Linked DNA regions of Homo sapiens: regions 1, 2, 3 and 5 are each reported to be linked to region 4. The links are microRNA targets in miRTarBase. Many come from high-throughput screens and were not tested one by one. Region 4 holds a microRNA gene; each other region holds the end of a gene's coding sequence.
The links. The annotated mature microRNA hsa-miR-96-5p reads UUUGGCACUAGCACAUUUUUGCU and lies in region 4 at 2,725-2,747, shown strand. An mRNA with a match to its seed (bases 2 to 7 or 8) in the 3' UTR can be bound and repressed. Matches are read on the target gene's strand: a 7mer-m8 pairs with bases 2 to 8, a 7mer-A1 pairs with bases 2 to 7 and ends in A, and an 8mer does both.

Region 1 (4,000 bases), not on the chromosome of region 4:
AGCTCTGCTCAGTTTTCTCCGTGGGGAAAGATCGGAACACTTACAAATGAGAACGGGACTTTAAGTAGATAGTATGCAATGGAAAACTGAGCCGGCAACAGTACTTAATGCTGGTTTTCTCAATAAAATCATTTTGCTGTGTAAACGCGCTTATAATGGGGATCTGTTATGAGTCTCAGGCAGGCGACATGAAAGCCGGCCTTTCAAAATCTGATTAGGTGGATAATGTTTGCAAACATGACGCCTGGCAAAACCGGTCTGATTCTAAGGTAAACTCATTTTGGACATAACTGATGTCTCACTGAGACAGCTTTTCAAAGCATGTCTGCAAACACCGGACCCCCGGGGACGGTGCGTGCGTGTAGGGGAGGGAAATTCCAGGGTTTCATATATCAAGATGACACACCCGCTGCACACTTCTCTTAGAAAGTCACGACGCACAGTACTGTGCGTCACAGGTATTGAGAAACACCACCATAGAGTCAATTGACTTTGTTTAACCTATAACCTTTTTTCCTCCCACATAGTAGGTAGTAACATCACACGGAAACAGTGCTCTGAAGACATTCTGGACACATCGTATACAGCACAGCCATTCAAATCAACGGCAACAGAACGCACGAAGAACCTGGTTTTCTTTCAAAGCATGAGCAGTTCTCATTTTACAACATGTGTTTTAACATAATTCAGAAAGTGCAATCTTTGCATGACAACCAGATAATTCTCAAAGGTTACTAGTGAGCTGATAAAATTAACGTTTGGCAAGGAGGTCATGGTTTACAGGTAGGCTGTCCGCTCACCAATGCTCAGAAAAATTCAGCAGAACATACTTTTCATATTTAGATCCGAAGAGAGGTGAGAGACATTCTACTCAAGTCATGGCTGGGCTTTCTGTCCTCAAACGAAATTGGGCAGGCCATTTGCGTGGTTTCTCTGGATAAGTTCCATTTATTAATCATTGTACAAAAAAATCTTGGCATTCATTTGAAGAGAAAAGAAGTTGCTATATCCAAATATTTAACATTTTAACATTGTGAAAGTTCAACGTTTATAACAGGGCTTTTTAAAATGGAGAAAAGTTTTGGAAAATTTTTAAAAAGAAACTTATGATTTATTAGAGTACAGGATCCAAAACACGTTTTTAGAAAAATATAAAGTGCCCAAATACCAACTTACACAGGTGATACAGGCTTCCTGGAGCCCCATGAAGCATTCATGAAGAAAGACATTTAAAAACAGTCTAGATACATATGTACAGCTGGGTCAGTAAAGGTAAAACCATCTTTCTTGACTTTGATGTGTCTAAGAAAAAAGGAAATCAATCAAACCAGAAAACCAACAATTGCAACTCTCAGCATGCTCAGGTTCTTATTAATGCATCTCATTCATATTAATTAATTCCGTATTATCAAACTTTCCCCTTTAAATGAAAGTAGTGTACAATCCTCCCAACCTTGGCGGGCCAGGTGCTGTGAGTGGTTACGTTTCCAGATGCAGGTTCAAATCCTTTGACTTTGGATTTGACTGATGAGGAACATGGACAGTGGATTAAATAGCTCATTCAGGCTGGAGGAGCCAGGGGCCAAATCCCCATCTCTTTCTAGTAACTGCTTAAAGCCTTCCCTTGCTATGAAGTGGTCTCAGGTGGCTTTCCAAACCTTGGTCACCCCAGGGTTTCCAAAGGGTAAACAAGCAGCAGGCATTCAACATGGGTGAGAATACTGCATGCAGATGGACAGACAGGTGCAGAGACAGGCCCCTAACGCCCCATTCACTAGAGCAACTGCATTATTTTAAATGTTGAGAGCAAAGTAACTAGGTCCTAACTTCGGAAGTTAGCTTCTATCGATTAATGACAAGATTAGCTCGCTTGAGAACTGGCAGGCCGAGAGTTGGTGGAGCTCCAGAGCTGCACAAAGGCGTGCAGTTACTCTGGGCTCAGTTACTGAGAACTTCGGAAAGGAGCCAGTGCCGTCCGAACACACGGTCAGGCTTTCCCAGAAGACGCCACAACAGGCTTCGTCCTGCTGCCGTCAGGACCCTGGCGGCTTGGAAAAGCAGATTCCAACACGCACATCTCCTTTCACACAAGTCCAACACTCTTCAAATGAAAGACATTCTCTCTCTTTCTAACCTGCCACATTCAAACAGGCCTTGAAGTGACTCTAAGGAATAACAAGAGGTGTGAAACCACTTTTTTTCCCTTCAAAACCTTTTTTTTTTTTTTTAAGGTTCATTAATTTTTTTTTTTCCTGATTACAAAAGCAAAACCTCATTTTTTGGTCTTTGAAGACCATGGAGTATGACTTCTAAGAGCAAACATTAACATCAGATTTGTATGTCTCACTACAAAAAGAACCCATCACTGATGTAAGACCTACTCATGATACTGAAGTAGATTTTTTAAATTAAAAAATAAAAGTAGTCATTTAAAATGGAGGAATTGTAGATGAGTATGGAAAAATCCATTCACAAAGTTCACTATTTGCATTTTCTAAAAGAATTTTATGTAATAAAATAGAAAACTAATGATTTATAGAGATGTGCATAAACTCAAGAGAGGAATATGGAAGGGAAAACTGTGTTATATTCCCATTTAAATTTAAAAAAAAAAGATAAAACACTTGAAATCTGTGTTTCACATATTAGAAAAAAATAAATTCAAATGATTCTAATTACCATTAGCTTGTTAATGTCTCCATCTCTAAGATGCTGCCAAGATAGCACACAACTTTACCTCTGAATATGCAACTAACTTCAGGGTAAAAAGACACACAGTCCTCACTCGGGACCGAACACGTTCCACAGAGAAATCAGAAGGAAATTATTGCAAATGCATAACCCCATCTGTCCAGCCAAGGAAATGTTCTGAGACAAATGCAGACAGACAGGGGAATGGAGTGAATACAAAGAATGATTACAGGAGCGTCGACTGTGAGACCTCATGAAGACAGAATGTCACAAACTGTCACCACAGGACAAGCATACAAGCCATGCCACTGACACAGTGCCTTTCAGATTAATTCACTAGTGTAGGCGGAGAGCAACATTGTCTTTGCAGCTGGGGAAGAGCACACGGTATTTAAACTTAGTAGGAGGCAACCAGCACTACTGGTGGAGTGGCTTTCCTGGTGCAGCAGGTCCCGAGGGCTCCGTGGAGACGTCTTCTTCCGGAGTCCCGTTCTCTTGGAAGATAGCAGCAGCAGCAAAGGTGCAATGTCCTCTCTAGACTTTACTCATCTATGTTCTCTTTCTTTGCACTGTAAATATTCTGCACCGTTTCATAGACAAACTCCAGATCTTCTGGATACCGGATCTCCAGCTCTGCGTTTGGGATGTAGTGAGTGCCAGTAAACTCTGAGAAATAGCGTCCCACGTCAGGGTGTGAGATTTCTTGAGGCTCCACGTTATATTCCAAGTTTTCTGTTGGTAAAGAGGCACACGGGCATTCTCATTACAATGTCCATTGCTGCCACACCTTTCATCCAGAGAACCTCCCATCACCCCTTCCAGGTGGCATTTTTGGGGTGGAGAAGGGAAGACTGAAGATGTTTATGGAGTCAGGAGAGGGTAATGGGAAAAGGGCAGCAAGTGGCAATCAGGAGAAGGTGGGTGGTGGCACGGGTGTCTCAAGAGCTCCCCACGGAACAGCAGGATCTTCCTCATCTCTAAGCAGGATGTCTGGCTCCAGCAAAACTCCAAAGGTCTCTTGGGGACTGGCAAACTAGAGACTCAACAGGTCTCTCTGACTGGACAATGGGACAACATTATCCCTGCCTGCTCTTTTTTTGGCAGTGGCTAAGTTTCTGAAGCTGCCATGTCACATGGTGACAAGTCTCGTACCTGCCACCCCTCTCCTCTATTCACAGGAGCCCCTCATGCAGACCACACTTTCCACCCGAGCTCCTTCCAACACTGGCCCTTAGCTTCCAACAGAGAGCAGCCTCTTTCCAGGGCTGCTGTGAGACCGTGGGATGAAAGGAAGGTGGCTTGCACCTCC
Region 2 (4,579 bases), not on the chromosome of region 4:
CAAATAAGTGAATAATCAGAGGCAAAAGGTCACAGCCATAACCTTTATTCCTCACTGGAGGAGTCTGGTGAGACCATGCCAACATTACTAACAGTGAACTATTACAAAATTTCCTGGTTTATCTTTTGTAATCCACATGGGTAAAAGGAGGAGAACATTTTCTTAAAGGGAGGTAAGAGGTAAACAATACTGGTTATGCTTCAGTGTTATCCTTACCACACTTTTTTTCCTTCTTAGGAAGAATGGACTGATGACGACCTGGTAGAATCTCTCTAACCATTTGAAGTTGATTTCTCAATGCTAACTAATCAAGAGAAGTAGGAAGCATATCAAACGTTTAACTTTATTTAAAAAGTATAATGTGAAAACATAAAATATATTAAAACTTTTCTATTGTTTTCTTTCCCTTTCACAGTAACTTTATGTAAAATAAACCATCTTCAAAAGAGCTAGAATAGCACCTGTTTTGAATATTCTTATTCCATCGTGACTAATATCAAATTAAAGCTGCAACTCATTTGCCTAATTTTTTAAGCAAAATATGATAGGCAAACCTATGCTTTTTTTAAAAAAGGCACCACAAAAAACAAAACTTAGTAGCCAGCTTTAAAAGTGTTAAGGAATGTGTTTTGCCCTCTAGAAACCTTTATAAATGGCTTTTTGAATGCCATCCTGATATATTTAGCTATTTGTCCATTACTATTAAACTGCAGAAGGTATTTCAACTGTTACATGGTACTGAAAGCCAGTCGTCTGGGTAATGAATATTATTTTTCTTTAGTTACCCGAAAACATTTCCAAATGGGTTTTTAAAAAAAACCAGATATATGATTTTGAATAGCTGTCTACATCAAACTCTTACGCTAGTATAGATAAGTAGGTAGCAGCAAATTGTATATTCAGTTGTGGTTGTTTTTTAATTTTGTTTTGATGTAAGGTCTTGCTATGTTGCCCAGGCTGTCTCAGACTCCTAGGCTCTAGTGATCCTCTGCCTCAGTTTTCTGAGTAATTGGGACTACAGGCACACATCACCACAGCCTTATAATTAACCTATTAGATCCTATAAGTGAATCCGTGTAAGTAGATTATAACAGTTACTAGGAATTTTGCAGATTAAATATGTTAGAGAAATGTAATTCAAATTGAAATGAGTCAATATAAAAATATGAAAGCACAGACTATTACAGCAAATTACTTACATATGAATCATGGCCAGCTGTATTTCACTATGTGACCTTGGTAAGTTATTAAACCTCTAAGTGCCAGTTTCCCACACTGAAAATGGGGAAGATAAAAATGCCTACTCTTCATAGGATTAATTAGAATAGTACCTGCATACACTAGTATTCAGTAAGTGTTAACTATTATAATTGGAACCAAACTGTGGACGTCTGTTTACCAAGCCAGATTTTTTTCAGGAAAACTGGCTTGAAGGAATTCCGAGTAATTCAAGTGTCCTGAATCTAATTAAATTGCACAAATACACACACCTCCTCAGTCTCAGTACATCCCAGGCTGTACTTTCCAGAAAGGTAGGTACCATTATAGTTACATCTATTTTAAGGCAATACTTACTATATGCATATTCATCTCTCTAACAATAATTCTTTACACTGTAGGCTTGAGTTTTGTGGGTTTTTTTTTTTTCTCATTCCAGAGTGAAAGGAATAAAATTCGTGATGTGAGATTTTTACAAAAGCAGAGTGGAAGAAGCCAAAAGTTATAAATCCTCCATCGCAGTCCTAGTTAAATATATTGCTGCTAGGCTCTAGACAGAATTACAAGATGTTCACAATTTGTCTCATTTTCCCTTTCAGATCGCCAAACTTTGGCATCAGAGCAAGGTCCACACTTATCACTGAAAATTTTCCCACCCAGCCCCATTAAAAACGTTAAAGTGTGAGAGATTTTATTTCAACACTGACAAGCTAGTTACTAGAGGGCCTACAAAGGTAAGTAACAAGTTTCCATTTCAACTTGAGAGACAAATGATGTTAAAATATAAGAAGCAGGGTAAGTCAGGTTTGTGATTTTAAATAAAAGGGAGAAGGATTTCAGACTGAGGAATGACAGGTTAGTATGGCTAAAGATTGAGGTGTGATAAATGGGAGCCAAAGTGCACAGCAAAAATATCTTGACTAATCCATATCCTCCCTGTCTTCTATCATGTAACCAAGGAAGGAGACCACCTGGGATACTATGTTGGTCCAAGTCCAGCTAAAAAACAGAAGGGGTGGAAAGGAGAGTAATTTGATAAAAGAGCCAAGAAGGGAGAGAATGGAATGAATTGAGCTGATTTCAAGGAAAAGGAGCATGGGACATGTTGAGATTTTTGGTATCAGTGTTAAACGGTGATTGAAGCCACATAGGTTAGCAGCCCCCATAGAAATAACTGCCTTTTGTAGCTTGGAACTACTAAGCAGACATCTTTTAAGCCCTTAGCATTTTTTTTTCCTGTATTTTATACATTAGAGGAATAGCATAAAGTGTTGCTCTTGGAATCTAGGGCTTTCCTTACTGTGGGAACACCTCCTTGGGTTCCTGTCTCACTCACTTTGATTACCAATGTCATTCTGCCACGTATGTTCCATATGTCCTATCTATCTGCCCTGCACAATTATGAGAGGGAAGGAATTATTGCATTTATAAAATCCTTTTCAAAAGAGGCCATTAGCAAAAATACTAATCTAAAGCTTCAGCTTCTCCCTGGGCCTTGCTCTGATGCTAAGGTTTAAACTGCCCCTGAAGGAGGAAGAAAATAAATAAATTAAATGCTTAGCTCTTTTAGACAGAAGTAATCAATTATGCAAGATATCCCTTGGTTTTATTTTAACTTAACCTTTGTGAATACTTCACAAAAATACACATACAGAAGTAAATAAAACTATACAGTTGAACTAAATATCCAGCAGATACAACAAGTAGTCAGAAGTTCAAAGATGGATAAGTTAGGCAGCTGATGAGGTTGTCTGCATAATCAAAGGGGTAGCACAAATAATGAACAAATAACTTTTAACAAAAGCATTCTAGTTAACATAAAAGAAATTGGTAGTCTATAAAATGGTTGAATGGGTAACATGCATTGATCAATACAACAACCAATAATATTTACTGAATTCAAACTATTTACTTGTAAACATTTAACAAAGCATTATGAGATCTAAATACAGTCTTTGACAATTTCAACAAAATAAGTCGTATGTTTAAAAAATAAAGCTGATGAGCAATAGATCATTCTATATATTTTCTTTCAACAGTTCCAGCAAGAGAAATAGCAGAGTATTTTTTAAAAGTATACAGCAAAGATTGTTCCTATTATAATGACAAACTCTGGAAACTGTAAATACAAATAATCATTGAACAGTCAAATGGTCATATTCCTAATCAGGAAGTAGTTACAGTAAGAACAGTCTGCAATCCAGTTATACACAATTGTCAATAAGAATGTGTTTCTTGTCAGTTGATTTCATAGTTCTTTCTCTAAGAGACAGCAAAACTTTGGCAACTGGGTGTACTGAAAATATATTTTGAAAGTTCGAGATATCAAGATACAGTCATAGCATTTCGTTTTGTGAAAGGTGGTCTGTACACCAAGGCTCAGAGGTTGTTAAAGATTGATTCCATGTGGAAATAGTGCAAATATCCTGCACAGATAGCTTACAAGGTTGCTGGCATAGTTATTCACCAGCAGAATCTTGGATTTTGTTTGCATAGCTCACACATCACTGGAATGTGGAAAAGTGTGCTATTTTTTGGCAAGAGCAAAGGAGACATTAAACTGAAGTGAATTACCATGTTGGACATGCTGAATCCATGCAGAACACTGGGGCGAAGGCTGCTACCTGACATCATTGGTTTTTGTATACTGGTTTTGTTTTTGTTGAAGCAGTTCTGTTATAGCCAGAAGCTTTTTCAATACGTGCTAGACAGAGGAAAAATGGTATGAAAATAAATGAAAGCTCGGTCAGCAATTTCAGGATGGGAACCTGGATTTGAAAAAAACTGTATCAAAGCAAAAGGATGCATAAAATATTACCACAATTCCCCTCAAAACATAAGTCTCTATTATTCAGTCATTGGCTGAGTATTTCTGGTCATAACTAAGAGAATTTTTATACCCTAAAGTGAACAGAAATTTGTTTGTGTTTGGCATGCTCCTATTTTTTAGGCCAGAACTATCACACTATCACATGTTGTCAGAAGCAGTTTATCTCTCTTTTAAAAAAGGCTTTTTTTATTTAATATCTAAGGCAAGTCAAGTCATATTATTAGTTTTGAAAGCTGCGGGGGGAGGGGCGGGGAGAAACAGGACTTGAGGATTCTAGAATCTCAGGTTGTAGAGAACTCAGTCACCAAACTCAATGCTTTAATCCCTTCTACAAAATCCCTGCCAAATGGTTAGCCAGTGCGGTGACAGCATTCACTATCTCCTGAAACTACATTAGAAACTAGTCAAAACTGTCCCTGTGGTCACTTCCTCTCAGTAGCCCTTATGTCAGCTGAGGACATTCAAAGTGTAACTCATTTTGTTCTATATCTCCAATATCTTAATTGACCTGGTATTAAGTCCCTTCAAATT
Region 3 (4,579 bases), not on the chromosome of region 4:
TCCAAGTCTAAGACAGTAGATGAGTGTTGGTGGTTCTGCATGCTTAGTACTGTAGGGAAGACAAAAGAGGTCTTTTCAGGAAAGACTATTTCTGGCAGAGGGCCAGCAAGTGCAAAAGCCCTGGGGCAGAAGCACTAGAGTGTTCTAGCTTGCGTGGGAGAATGCCAGGAGTGACAGAGTGGGCTAGATCATGTAGGCCTTGGCGGGCACAGAGTTTGGATTTTATTCTAAGTGACATTGGGGTCCCCATTCTCCACAGTGTGTGGCACTTTGTAACCCCAGGTTGTTGGTTCCAATCCATTTAGGGTGTCACCTCTGGGTGCACTGAGAAAAACAACCCTCCCCTTTGCCTTGACAGAATGTTAGGCAGGCTTCTGTCCTCCCCACAGGGCCTGAACTTTGCTTGCTCCTGGTTAAGTAAGTGCTGCAATGCAGAACATGCCCCACTTAGCAGCTTCTCCTGAGAACCGGCTGACCACAGGGAAACACATTTCTGGTCAAATCATGCCAAACAGGTTCCCCTTTGCTTGCCCACTGGCCCTTGAAAGTAGCTGAGCTGCTAGCTGTGCTTACTACTCCCTACTGAAAAAAAAGGCTTTTTTTTGTATTATTTTGTGATGTTTTTTGTATTATTTTGTGATGTTTGCAAGTCCTGAGGTCCAGGATGTGCCACGGGCTCACAGCATCTGCTCGCCCACCTTGTTCAGGCATCCCCTTCCCACTCCACTCATTCCTCTTGCTTTGCTTTGTGTGTTGACCTCCAGCTTGCTTTTCTTTTCAGTGTGGGATTTGCAGTAAACCGATGGGCGATCTCCTGGATCAGATCTTCATTCACCGTGACACCATTCACTGTGGGAAATGCTATGAGAAGCTCTTCTAGGTGGGTGCTGGCACTGCAAAGGACAAGTGGCCAAGAGACTCATTAAGGAGTAGAGATGCACCCTGGTCTCTCCTGGAGTCTCAGCCCCAGACACAGCTATCTTTCTTGGCTCTTCCTTATGTTCAGGGGGCCTTGTGTCCTCATGTCCCTATGCCTTGTGATACTTTGAGATCTTAGGTGGCATGGACAAAGGCCCTCAATGAGGACACTTCCAAATCACACCTTCCGTCCAGCACCTGAGCCGAGCCCTCTAGCTACCCTGGGATACTCGCTCGGCCGCTGTTGTTAGCCCCATTTTGCAACAAGGAAATAAAGATATAGAAAGGGAGGGGACCTGGAGAAACCCAGGTAGAATCAGGACCTCACCCCAGGTCTTTGGATTCTTGTCCAGGGCTCTCTGTTCACTGTCACTCGCATAGCTTCAGATCAGGACTGCATAGCCATGGTGCTCAGTGAAACAAGCCTCTGGGCCACATTATGAGAACTGCCTGAAGATGTGTGTTTGCATGCTCATAGCCAGTGGAATTTATCACGGTGTCTGAGCACAGAGCAGAATATATCCCTTGAAGGCAGTAGCAACCAGGCTTTCCACTAGCTCCATGCTGATGGTCTTCTCTCCAGAAGACACACCTTGAGCTAGGTGGTAACTCCTGATGACTGGAGCAGTCACCCACCCTGAGGGCCTCTAGCTGATGTGTTTCCAGTCTCATGGCTACTTCTGTTTTCTTTTAGCGACCCCCCACCGCCAGGCTGATCAGAAGCTGATGACTCGTGGACAAATTTGGCTGTCCCCAGTTTTGCCCCAAGTTGCTGTCTCCCCTTCCCTCACCTCCTCCCTCCCTGTTTGATTTCTTCATGCTTTTGCCCTTCTCAAGTTGAAGTTGCATACATCCAATATCGTATCTTAATGATGCTATGATAATTGCTTGTGTGTGTAGCTTCTTGTAGCTTAGAAAGCGCTTTATGCCCATGATGTCATTTCAGGCTCAACCAAAGAGGATCAAACAGGAATTCCATCTTGGCTTCCCTAAGACAGATTGGCTTTCTAATGAGTTTAAGTGGGCAGAAGTGTAGGGTTCAGTGTGTCCTGACTCCCTTGAGGCTTATAATGGGCCAAGTTGAAGACTGTTGATGATCCCTGGTGGGTAAATTGCAGACATCAAATGCTAGGGATTGGCATAGGCTAGTGTTTAGCTTGTCTATTTGCCATATCTATTTTTTTTAAATTTCCATACACTTGTAAAAGTAGTTAGTTGCTTTTGATTGAGTTATATAGCAGTTTTTCATTTGGTCTTCCACTCACCTTTCACTATATTTGAGTGTTCCCTTACAGGTATGTTGGCATGTGTTGGAAAATTTACACAATTAGGTTTAAATTCAGTAGGATGTGATTTTAGGATGCTACTGATCAAAGTGATATCTGTGTCTGTTGGAATCTTGATAGCTGATTAATTTGCCCTCAATTCTGCTCCCTGAACTTCACACATAAATCTTCCCAAGTGGGTTTTAGGGTGTATAGATCCCAGCAGGATTAAGGAGGTGGAAAAGCAGCTAACATTTCTTGAGGCTCTACCACATAGCAGGCACTGTCACAGAGTAATGGCATTAATCCCCATAATAATCCTGTGAAGGTGATATTCTCATCCCATCTTAGACATGAGGATATTGGAACTCAGAGAGGTGGCTATTGCATTGCGCAGAACGCTACAGAGCCCATGCTCTTCCCAGAGCAGCACCCACAAAAGCAAGCATTGATTTTGTGCTCAGTGTGTGCCAAGCACTGTGCAGAGGGTACACAGTTCCTGCCAGGTTAACACCCTCCCTTCAGGCCTCCCAAAGGCATAGGCTTGCAAAGAGCAGAAGGTGTGAAATCACACTCTTCCTCTGGGCATCCTGGATCCCTGAATTATCCCCCCCCCCATGAAGTACTTCAAGGGCCAAGCTGCCCCTTTCCCTCCTCTCCGCCCATGAAAATGCCTCCAAACTGAGATGCTTTCAGCTGAGAACAGATTTGACTCACAGACATTACCAAAGAGGAGCTTGTGAATCCAGGAAAAGCTCCAGGGGGCTAGCTGATCTGAGCAGAGAGCTTTCAGTGACCCATTTTCCTGTCTAGACTCTGCCTTAAGCTAGTGGCAACTGCTGGGGCCCCAGGTACTTGGGACATGGAAACTCGTTGGATGGCTGGGCAGATGTAAGCCTGTCCATGCAGTCAGCCGATCCTCTGCTCAGGTTCAGCTGGACTCTGCCATCTGTGGGCCCAGCATCACTCTGTAAGTTCCTTGAAAGGAAGAACAACCTTAGAGTATTTCTGATACAAAATGAGGGCCTCTGCTCTTGATTTAATTATAAAATGTCTACGTCTTTCTCCAGTTTCTGAGCCCTATGCACATTGGCTTGTGGGCTTGTTCTTCCTGCCAAATGATCAGAGAGGAACATTCCATTTATTTGTAGTGGATTTCCTCTGGAGGGCATGTACCCACACTAAATACCAACTGCTCTTCCTCAGCTGTAGTCCCCAACATCAGACTTGGCACGTGGTGGACACTAACACACAGGCACTCAATGAATGAGTGAAGGAAATAAAAGTCACCCCGTTGGTGAGAGGTGCTATCCCTGAGTCTCAGTGCAGGACCAGTGGATGAAAGGCAAGGTAAAGAGGCCCAAGATAGGCTGGCTTCCCCCGTTCAAGGTATAGTCTGCCTTTAAGGGAGTTTTAGAACCAACATGCAAGACATTGAAAGAAATCTTGCAAGAGCCATTATTGACTTAGATCCAAAACAGCCTCTCTCATGTCTAAAAAGGCACAGAATTTTGCAGATCTGAGGAAGAGGGATGCATTACCTTTTTGCTTCTTTTCAATTGCTTAGTGTTTCTAATCATACTTAATCCACACTAATGTGCGCAATTATAATAAATGGTAAGATATCACATGTGTCAGTGTTAAAGTTTTCTTTTGAAGTGTAATAACTTGGTGTATTCAGCTGTGTGATTTCTTTATTCCTATTGCCTGAAGCCATTCTCTGTACAAAAGTAAACAAGTACTTAATAGCAAGCTCTAGACACTGGGCATGCACAGGAACTGTGGAATTCTAGACACATCAAATCTTAATGAAGAATATTGTATTGTGGCGGCAGAGAGCGGGGGCGGTCCATCCTTCTCATGATTACCACTGCAGACAGACAGCCACCTAGTCATTAGTGCCCACTTCCAGTGACCAGGAGCTCAGTTCCTTACAAGCCCCTGCTGTCTGTGGTTTTAGAAGATGCATTCTTCAGTTGAGTTAAAGTCCATTTCTGTATGTCACCCACTGGTGGTCTTTAATCCCTCCGCTAGATGCCAGCTCTTAAAATAGATGAAAATACTTCTCAGATTCTGTCTTGGTCAACTCTTCTCACATTTAAACACCCCTGGTCCCTCTAACTCTTCCTTGACAGTAATTCTGAATACACATCTCTCAAAGGCCCTCCTCAAAGGTGACCCCAACACATACTCCAACTCATTCCTCTAGATGTGTACCAGTGTAATCTGCATGCGATCCAAGTCTTGATTCAACCCAGGGACAGGAAAGGGTGATCAGGAAGTCCAAAGATAGACATAATACTCCGAGAACTCCTTCTGCCACTGAGTAGGGGCCTCAGGGCCATTGGACTAGTGTCCCTCTAGCTATTTTCTCACCCCAACTTTGGCCTTCATCT
Region 4 (4,579 bases):
GCCCAGGCCCCAGCCTCCCTCCACCAGGATGGAGAGGCCCCAGCGGGCGTGGCACCCCCCAGGCACTGCGGCACTTGGGCTTCCTGTCGCATTTGGGTTAGGAGGGGTGAGGCAGGCGCAGGGGAGGAACCTGGCCCAGCCGACTAGAACTGGAAGTGGAGAGGGATTTGGCTTTGCGAGCTGCTCCCTGTATTCCATCCTATGTCAGTTACAAAGATGAGGAAAACAGACCAAGGAGCTCGACAGAGATGCCACAATTTGAAGGAGCGTACGTGTTTGGCTGCTTTGTTACAGGGCTCTCTCCTCTACCTGGGGTCCCTTTTATTCCTTCCTGGGCTGGGGAGAGCAGAATCCCTGGCTCCATCTGTTCTCCAGCTCTAAGGCCTCTGTGGCTCCTTGGTTGCAAGGTGCTGCGTGTTCCCCTTCCCTAACACCTGCCTCTCCCCATCCTTGGCTGTCCCCAAAAGAAGAATGAAGAATTCTTTTTTTTTTTTTTTTTTTTTTTGTTGTTGTTGAGACAGAATCTCGCTCTGTTGTTGCCCAGGCTGGAGTGCAGTGGTGCGATCTCTGCTCACTGCAACCTCCACCTCCCGGGTTCAAGCGATTCTCCTGCCTCAGCTTCGGGCGCCTGCTACCACGCCTGGCTAATTTTTGTATTTTTAGTAGAGACGGGGGTTTCACCATGCTAACCAGGCTGGTCTCGAGCTTCTAACCTCAGGCGATCCTCCCGTCTCCCAAAGTGCGCTGGGATTACAGGTGTGAGCCACTGCGCCCAGCCAGAAGAAAGAAGAATTCTGCATTCTGTTTAATTATCCCAGGGTGAGGCTTCTTGGGAAAGATTTCTCAAAATAGATCTTCCCACCCCCACCCCCACCCCATGCTGAGCTGTCAGGGTGCTATTAAAATGCAGATTTCCAGGCAGGCTCAAGAATCTACATTTCAACAGGCTCCTTGGGTGATGCTTATGGCTACACCCTAAGCAATGTTCATAACTACCCACCCCATACTCTTTGCTAACACCCTGCCATCACCCCTTCCCCTCCCCACCCAAGGCTGGGAAGTCTGGTCTCTCTTCCTTAGTAGAGTTCAGAAAATTGTAGTAAGGGAAACTGAGGCAGAAGGCTGAGGAGTGACTTCCTGAGATCACCACCTCATCAAGCTGGATTGTCCTCTGGGGAGATAGACCAGCTAGAAGGGCAGAGCCCTGTAGTGGGGGTGTGTGGGAGCAGGACAAAGAGTCCTCGGGAGCAGGAAGGGTGGAGCATTAAGCAGTGTCTAGGGGAGAGCGGATGGCTTTGGCCAAGGTACCCAGATGGAGCTCTGAGGTCCACGGGAGGTAGTTCCTGGGGGTAACATCGCCAAGAGGTCTGCATAGTTTCTGGGCCAGGGCACCTGCTCTGACCCTTCCAGGATATTTTCTAGCCACCCTGCCTTCTGGGCCACCGCTGACCTGGAGTAGGCTGAGACTCTAGTGGCCACTCTGCGGAGGCCCCAGCTTGCCTGCCCTGGGTGCCAGCTCCCCAGAGACCCTCCCTCCCACCCTCTCCCTTCTTCCCGTCCTTCCCCAGGGCCTGTGACACCAGAGGCAGGGCCTCCACAGCAACTTCTCTCTAGGCAGCTGCTCTGGCAACCACTGATGCAACCTTCCCAGCCCCTCCCTCGCTCCTGAGCCTCCGCTTTCCTCCGCAGTCACTCCAGAGCCAGCCAGGAGCCACTCCCTTGCTAGAGTGCATCCGTGCCTCCGGCTCCCTCCAAGCCACCTGGGTGGCTGCAGGACTTCTCTTCTGCCCTCCTTTCCTGGCCTTTTCCTGCCTTGATCCTAGGCCGGCAGCAGAGATGCCCAGCCTGGGCGGTTCACAGTCTGGCCCAATCTGGTCTGGTTTGGGATGGGAGTGGGGGTGAGCAGCAGATTCGGTTTGTTCCTGGGGCTCTGTTTCTGCCACAGGGCAGGCTGGGGGGTGGAGGATAATGGAGACCAAAGTGCCTAGGAGCCTGGGCTGCTGGTGTCTGGGCTCAGAGGCTACGAGAGGCATCTTGGATGTCCCACTGGTCACTGCCCCTGTGGCAGGTTGGGTAGAGAGGAGGCTCTGGCCAGCTGCTTGCCTCTCCGAGCCAGAGTTACTCTGGCAAGGAGATGGATGGTCCTGACCCACTCCCTCCCCAGCCTGGAGGCGCAGTCTGGGTGATGTGGAGGGATGTGGGCCTTCAGGTGGAGATAGGAGACACCTTGGTGTGGTCTTCTCCTCTGCAAGGCCAGAAGGTCAGCTCCTCTCCCGCACTGTCCCTGTCTCCTTGAAGGTCATCTTGGGCTGATGGGGCATGTGGATCTTGTGAAGAGGTGGGATGGGGTGGGGGGTAGAGACCGTAGCAGCCGCTGCTGAGGGCCTGCTGGGGGGCCCCCAAGGGAGTGGGCAGGCTAGGAGCAGGGAACGGGCATCGTGGGCCGCTGGTCTCTCCGCAGGGTCGGCAGGCCGCAGAGTGTGACTCCTGTTCTGTGTATGGCACTGGTAGAATTCACTGTGAACAGTCTCAGTCAGTGAATTACCGAAGGGCCATAAACAGAGCAGAGACAGATCCACGAGGGCCTCCGGAGCACCTTACCCACTTCTGCCTTGAGTGCTCCTAGACGTCGGAAACAGGCTGCTTCCAAGGGTGCAGGGATGCAAGGCCCCTCGTCCAGTGTGTCCCCAGAGAGCCCGCACCAGTGCCATCTGCTTGGCCGATTTTGGCACTAGCACATTTTTGCTTGTGTCTCTCCGCTCTGAGCAATCATGTGCAGTGCCAATATGGGAAAAGCAGGACCCGCAGCTGCGTCCGCCTCCCCTGCATCCTTGTGTCAGGGCCCCAGCCTGCTCCTCCTCAAGGCCTCCTCACCGCCTCCCCAGCCCATCTGGCTCAGCTGCTGTGTGAGGGCCCAGCGCTGGTGGGCAGCCAGATCGCCTTACACTGCCTGGGGCCACGGTAGAGCTGGGAGCCCAGCAATCTGAGCTGGGCCAGCAGATGGGGCCGCCCAGGGCAGAGGTGGGGGAGTCTGAAACCATCTGTAGGGCCATCCTGAATGGTGCCGTGGGTTGGAAAGGCCCAGCCAGGCTCCCAGCACACGCTTGGGGTGAGACCTTGGCTGGCAGCACAGGGCCTGGTCTTTTCTGCTGCAGGTTGTGAAGGGGGCAGCTCCAGGCAGGTGGGCTGCCCTTGAGGTCAGCCTGGGTGTTTCCAGGGGGGCTACCGTCTCTGGAGCTGTAGCCTGCTGTGGAGTGGGTCATCTCCGAACAGCTCCAAGAGGAGGATACTTAGTGGGGCTCGGAGTTGGAGGGCATTTTCAGGCCTGCCCCTAGAAGGTTCTGGAGCAGAGGCCAATGTTCCCCTTCACACACCACACACTGGTAATGTAGCTTCCTGGGTCCCTGGATCTGGGCTATGACTAACTGGCCTATGCTCTCCATCTGGGTGTCAGGTGACATTACATATATAATCCCAACAGTTCCCACCTCAGCCCTGTGGGGCTTGTAATTTTTTAAAATAGTTATCTCATAGATGGGGAACCTGAGGCTTTGAGAGGAAAGGCTTGGCTGAAGAGGTTGGTGAGTGGTAGAGCTGGGTCACTGTGGCTCTTCCGCCACCAGCCACACCTTCCATGGAGGCACCCAGGGCCTGGAGGTGTCTCAGCTCTGAATCTACAGGCCTGGGCTCCCAAGGATGCCCCAGATGGCAGAGACTGAGGCTGGGAGGCCTGGACCTAGTCTGTCAAAGCTGGGGAGAGCCTGGCCAGCCAGGCTGGACCCATGTGAAATCTGGTGGTCAGCAATCAAGCAGGAGACCAGTGGCCGACTTGGGACCAGCTGGGAGCTATCATGCCCCAGGTCACTGGGCCAGCCCCTGATGGGGCTGCTTCTCCCCAGGGAGCCTCAGGCAAGGGTTGGTGGACTTAGCCCAGATCAGTGGGAGTCATTTTAGGTGTCTGAGCCAGGGAGTGCCCGGGTGGGGGATGTGTGTGGTTGAAGCTGGCAGCTGGAGGATGACGGGTCCAGTTGACTGCACAGCAGGAACATGGTGACCAGTGCTGCCTGCCTGGGTGCCCTGGGGACTGCCTTGGGTGGGTTGGGCCTTTTTTTTCTTGTCAGTTAGCTATCACCAAACCGCGAGGAGCCCCCAATAAATTCCCTCTGGGGTGTGGTGCCCGTGTTTCTCTACAGAAGCTCTCCAAGCCCCTGCAGAAAAAAGGAGGGGCTTGTTTATTTCAGGATAGAAGGGGACTTCTGCCCTGGTGAGGTGTCCCTGTAGCTAGGTCTCTCTTCTGATGGCCCCAGCTCTCCCTCTGCCCCTCGGAACCTGGCTGGCCTGTGCCGCACCCTGTCTCTGTGCTCCAGTCCTCCGCCCCGGGTGCTTCCTTAGGGCGTCCTGCTGCAGGTCCCATGGGATAGGAAAGAAGGGATTTCCCGGCCTGAGTGAGAATGAGCCCTGGAGGTGGGGTGGGCACAGAGACCCAGCAAGGGGGGGTGGAAGGCCCCTGGCAGTGACCGGTTCTAGAGCTTTTCCCTGGAGCCTCTGGAGTGTCTGGCCAGGGTTCTGCTCCTTCCTG
Region 5 (4,579 bases), not on the chromosome of region 4:
AACAGCAGGGGCACTTTCATCTGTCATGTCATAAGATTCCAGCTGGGCCGGGCGCGCCGGCTCACGCCTGTAATCTCAGTGCTTTGGGAGGCCGAGGCGGGCGGATCACGAGGTCAGGAGATCGAGACCATCCTGGCTAACATGGTGGAACCCTGTCTCTACTAAAAATACAAAAAAATTAGCCGGGCGTGGTGGTGGGCGCCTGTAGTCCCAGCTACTCGGGAGGCTGAGGCAGGAGAATGGTGTGAACCAGGGAGGCAGAGTTTGCAGTGAGCTGAGATCACGCCACTGCACTCCAGCCTGGGCGACAGAGCGAGACTCCATCTCACAAAAAAAAAAAAAAAAAAAAGATTCCAGCTGAAGGAAAGGGGTTGGTCTCTCTAAAAGAAGGACTGGAAAACCCCTGTGAGATTGACTTCCCCAAGTCCACACAGCTCATGGGCCTCTGATGGTGTTCCTTTTTTCAGACTTATTTATTTGTTGAGTCAGGGTCTAACTCTGTCATCCAGGCTGGAGTGCAGTGGTGTGTTCACAGCCCACTGTAGTCTCGATCTCCTGGGCTCAAGTAATCCTCCCACCTTAGCTTCTCAAGTAGCTGGGACTACAGGTGTGCACCACCACTCCCGGCTAATTTTTGTGTTTTTTGTAGAGGTGGGGTTTTAGCAATGTTGTTCCTTTTTGACCTTTAAATAAAATAATTCACCACCTCCTTCTAGAATAGGCTTTGAAGACATACATACCAAAAATGCACAGGTAGAAAGAGCTGGGCCCCGGAAGGCGGGGAGGCAGCCGTGCAGGCCAGCAGGGGCCTCCTGGCCAGGTCTGAGGCGGGCCCTTCCTCTTTCCTCTCCACAGATGTTCAACTGCATCACGGAGCTGGTCCTCCGAGCAAAGAAAGACAACCTGGCAAAACAGCAGCAGCAACAACAGAACGATGTGGTGAAGCTCACGAAGAACAGTAAACGAAAGAAACGCTGCTGCTAATGGCACCCAGTCCACTGCAGAGACTGCACTGCGGTCCCTCCCCCAGCCCGAGGCCCACGGAGGTTCCTCGGGGGACAGTCTCAGTTTCGTGCCGTTATTTAAAGAATTCTCTCCATGTTTTTGTATCGGGAGGTGCCATCGGCACTTCCTCCCCCGCCCTCCTCGAGTGCCAAGAAGGTGTTGGACCAGCCCGCCCTTCCCTACTGGTGCCCCCTCCTCCCCGGCCAAGGCGCCTGGACCTGGCGAGGACGCTGCCCGCCGAGCGGACTGATTCGCAGAGTCTGTACATAGTGTATATTGCTCTACCCGGCCGCACACCACGTCCTGCTCTGGCTTTTGCCTTCTTGATGCCAGCCTGCTGCAACAGACCCTCCCCGCGCCCCTCCCCAGCCCATCTTACTGCAAGCAGCGTCCTGAGGAGACAGCGGCACGTTCTAGCTGCGTCTGCGGCCAGCCCGTGCCAGTGGAGTGGGCTCCGCGTTGCTCATTCTCTCCGACAGGTTGTCAGCCTCTGTCCCCGCTGCACAGGGTCTTGCCCCTTCTCCGGGGCCTGTGCCAGCTCCCTTCCCTCCCCGTTGTCCTGTCCCCACAGCCATTCTGGGAGCTGGGGAACCTGGTCTCAAGGCAGGCCCTGCAGTTCCACAGAGGTGGCAGGTCTTGCCCTTTGGCCAACAGATTTCTTGTCCTGCCTTCTAGATGCCTCTGAGCTCCAAACCCAGGGCAGCCATGGCTTCTCATTTACACCAACAGGTTTCAGTTCCAACAGAAAGGTCGGGGTAGGTTCGTGCAGAGATGGGGCTGGCAGGGGGGCTATGGGAGGATTATTTTAACAGATCAAGAAAATGAAGCCAAATCAAGTGAATTAAATTCCTCACAATTATTTTCTTTCCCTGAGGTTTGATTGGCACAGCAGCAAAAGTTGAGGCCACCCCACTTGTGTCCACTGTTTTTAGAAAAAAATGAATGGCTTCCTGCCATTGTGGGGCTGGACTCTTGGGCTTTCTTGGTGGGAGCGGAGAAGGGGCCTCCCACCCTTGTCCGAGTTGCCTCCCACTGGAGGTCAGGAGTCTACACTGCAGCCTCGGGCACTGTGGGGAGTGCATGCCTGGGGCCTCTGGGTGGGGACCATGGACAGGCCCTGGTCACTGTCCTAACCTTTGTCAGGACAAAGGTAGCAAGAGGATTTCCTGGCGGGTGGGAAGGAATGGCTGGGGCGGCCAGTTTTGACACGCCCCAGTGCCCTGGAGAACAACCAGGGTCATCTGCACTTGATGACTGCTCCCCGACCCCCAGCCCGGACACCTCATTCCCCTCCCACTACAGGGATCAAGTGACCTGGGAAGAACCGAGTTTAACACCAGGATGTGTTTCCTTAGATTTCCTTTCCTAGGCGATTTCCAGGGAGAGCCCTGATTGGACAATCACATCACAGATCACACTGCAGTTTCCATGTTAGCACTGTGGATGGGTTTTTAATCAATAAAAACTGGGGGTTTCTTCTCACCGACTCTCCACTTGCCCAAACTGCCAAAAGCTGGTGATTCTGGGACAGGCCTTCACTTTGGAGCCACGGGATGGGGTGGGGGAGCCCCATGGGCCTGGGAAGGAGGGTGCTGTGGAGGGGGCTGCAGGGCTGACCAGCAGGCAGCCTCATCTGGTCGGGGGCGGGGGCGGCAGGAGCAGAAGCGGGGTCTCCGTCCTTGGGACTGTCCTGGTTGGCCACGGGCCCTGAGGATGCACGGTGCCTGGGGCTCCTGTGCCGGTGGGCGGGGGGCATGCTGGCCTCTGAGCGATCAGGCGAGGCCAGCGAGGGTGTGCTTGCAAATTCAAGCAATAAGAGGGGGGTTCCTGGGGGCTTCCAGCCCAGGCTAGAAGCCCCCATGGCTTCTGGCAGCTGGACATCAGCCCCAGGTATTGGGGTGATTTTGGTCATGACAGTGTGCCTGTCCCACTGTTACACGCATGAATGGGGGTTATGGGGTGGGGGTGGGGACTCAGGGCTGGACCGACGTCCTAGTGGACCTGATGTGAAATTCCTGTCAAACAAACACCACTTTTCAATGGTTTGCTAGGAGTATTTCTGTATTGAAAGTTTCTAATTATGCTTTTTAAAAAAATACTAAAAATAAAGGTTCAAGCTGCCAAATTTTCTTCCAGGGTCTGTTTGCTCTCCCTCCAGAGATGTGCTGAGTGGCCGTGGCTTCTTCCCACCCACCGTGTCCTGCTCTTCCCTGTTCTTGGCCTAAGTCTTGCACAGGAGCCTGTCGAGGCCCTTGGGACACTTCCAGAAGCCAGGTCCATTTTCTCCATGAACAGGTGGGCCAGGGTTGAGTCTCCCCCTAGTTGGACTGGGAGCACATGTGGTAAGATGCCAGGGGAAGCTCCGTGTTTATCCTCCACATGCCTGGAAGGATGCAGTGGAAGCCTTTGCCTGGCGTGGTTTCTTTCTGGCTTGAAGTTTCTGCCAAGCTTTAGGGCCCTGCTGGCCTGGGAAGCAGCGTTGGCAGGCCTGCCTTGCGGATGGCACGCTGCAGCACTGGCAGGGGGCAGTGCCAGGCGGGAGGGGCAGGGGAGGATGCCCTTCCTGGCCAAATCCCTTGGTTAAGTAAGTACCAGCATCTGAGGTGGCCCGGGTGCAGGGGAACCACTATTGCTACCTCTCCAGCAGCAGCCAGTGGTGAGTCTGACATGTCAGCTGCATTCAGACCAAACCCGCCCCCCGCAAATACCCAGAGACTGAGGCAGGAAGCTCTGTAGAAATTCATTTTATTCTTATTCAGACTATTTTCAAAAGAAGCAGTGGTGTGCTGTTTTTCTAAAAATATGCCTTTATAGATTTTTATATATGTATATTATAAAATCCATACATGTATTTACATGATTGCTACATACAAAATTACAGCACTGTGGTATGTACACATCTACAGGTACATTCTTGCCGCGCATCCCTGCTGTGCTTTCCCCACGTGAGGGAGGGAGGGAGACTGAATCGGTTGTGAGCAGCTGAGGGCTGGCCGGGCCGCGGAGCCTCTGAGTTGGGGCCTGGGTGGAGGAGGAGGGGCGGCTGCAGAGGCAGGAGCAGCAGCCACTGCAGGCTTCTGCAGGCAGGCAGGCAGCATCTGGAGGCTTCCGGCAGCCTCCCCCTCCCCTCCACCCCGTGGTGCCTGTGCTGCCCTCAAGGTGGGGTGGCTGACCACAGACCCCTCTGGTGCCATTCAGTGGCCTGGACTTGTTTGGCTAGGCCAAGAAATTATGTATGTATGTGAGGGGTGGAGGAGGGAGCTGTGGGAGGAGGAGACCCCGTCCAACCCCAGCCCTGAGCAGGGGAAAGGGCTGGATGGCTAAAGCCTGCAGATGACTGGTGATAACACTCTGCCTGGCCAGGCCCTGCTAAGGGGCAGAGACTGAAGGCTGGGAGGGAGAGCAGTGGCGACAGGGGGACAGGGCCTTCTTCCTCCCTGGGGCTCGGGTGGCCTCAGCTGAGCTTGGGTAAGCCCCGGCTCTTAGACCCTGCGGCCAGAGGCTTGGCCTCCTGCCAGCTGAGGTGCATGCATGCGGGGGAGGGGCTGCCATCTCTCCTTTGACCCTGGGCCAG

Region 1: the mRNA of FBXO21 is a reported target of hsa-miR-96-5p. Seed matches in the 3' UTR shown: 7mer-A1 at 758-764.
Region 2: the mRNA of RASA1 is a reported target of hsa-miR-96-5p. Seed matches in the 3' UTR shown: 7mer-A1 at 3,752-3,758 and 7mer-A1 at 3,498-3,504.
Region 3: miRTarBase lists ZNF185 as a target of hsa-miR-96-5p. Seed matches in the 3' UTR shown: 7mer-m8 at 2,651-2,657 and 7mer-A1 at 3,296-3,302.
Region 5: the mRNA of RAB35 is a reported target of hsa-miR-96-5p. Seed matches in the 3' UTR shown: 7mer-m8 at 1,151-1,157, 7mer-A1 at 2,510-2,516 and 7mer-A1 at 3,124-3,130.

Annotation. Positions count from the first base shown.
Region 1 is chr12:117,142,855-117,146,854 of GRCh38, forward strand. It overlaps FBXO21 (F-box protein 21), which reads right to left. Exons shown (of 12, transcript NM_015002.3): 12 at 1-3,423. The coding sequence ends at 3,233. Among named protein-coding and RNA genes, the nearest start is that of TESC-AS1, 45 kb to the left of the region's middle. RefSeq lists enhancers at 1-1,137, 538-617.
Region 2 is chr5:87,390,143-87,394,721 of GRCh38, reverse strand. RASA1 (RAS p21 protein activator 1) reads right to left here. Exons shown (of 25, transcript NM_002890.3): 25 at 2,806-3,922. The coding sequence ends at 3,839. It overlaps CCNH (cyclin H), which reads left to right. Exons shown (of 9, transcript NM_001239.4): 9 at 238-448. The coding sequence ends at 276. Among named protein-coding and RNA genes, the nearest start is that of CCNH, 20 kb to the left of the region's middle.
Region 3 is chrX:152,969,662-152,974,240 of GRCh38, forward strand. It overlaps ZNF185 (zinc finger protein 185 with LIM domain), which reads left to right. Exons shown (of 25, transcript NM_001395254.1): 24 at 782-880; 25 at 1,613-3,813. The coding sequence ends at 880. Among named protein-coding and RNA genes, the nearest start is that of PNMA5, 22 kb to the right of the region's middle.
Region 4 is chr7:129,772,907-129,777,485 of GRCh38, reverse strand. MIR96 (microRNA 96) reads left to right here and starts at 2,717; the gene lies at 2,717-2,794. It overlaps MIR183 (microRNA 183), which reads left to right and starts at 2,472; the gene lies at 2,472-2,581. RefSeq lists enhancers at 1-548, 3,392-4,253.
Region 5 is chr12:120,093,650-120,098,228 of GRCh38, reverse strand. It overlaps RAB35 (RAB35, member RAS oncogene family), which reads left to right. Exons shown (of 6, transcript NM_006861.7): 6 at 856-3,130. The coding sequence ends at 984. It overlaps BICDL1 (BICD family like cargo adaptor 1), which reads right to left. Exons shown (of 10, transcript NM_001367886.1): 10 at 3,735-4,579. Among named protein-coding and RNA genes, the nearest start is that of RAB35, 21 kb to the left of the region's middle. RefSeq lists an enhancer at 4,145-4,579.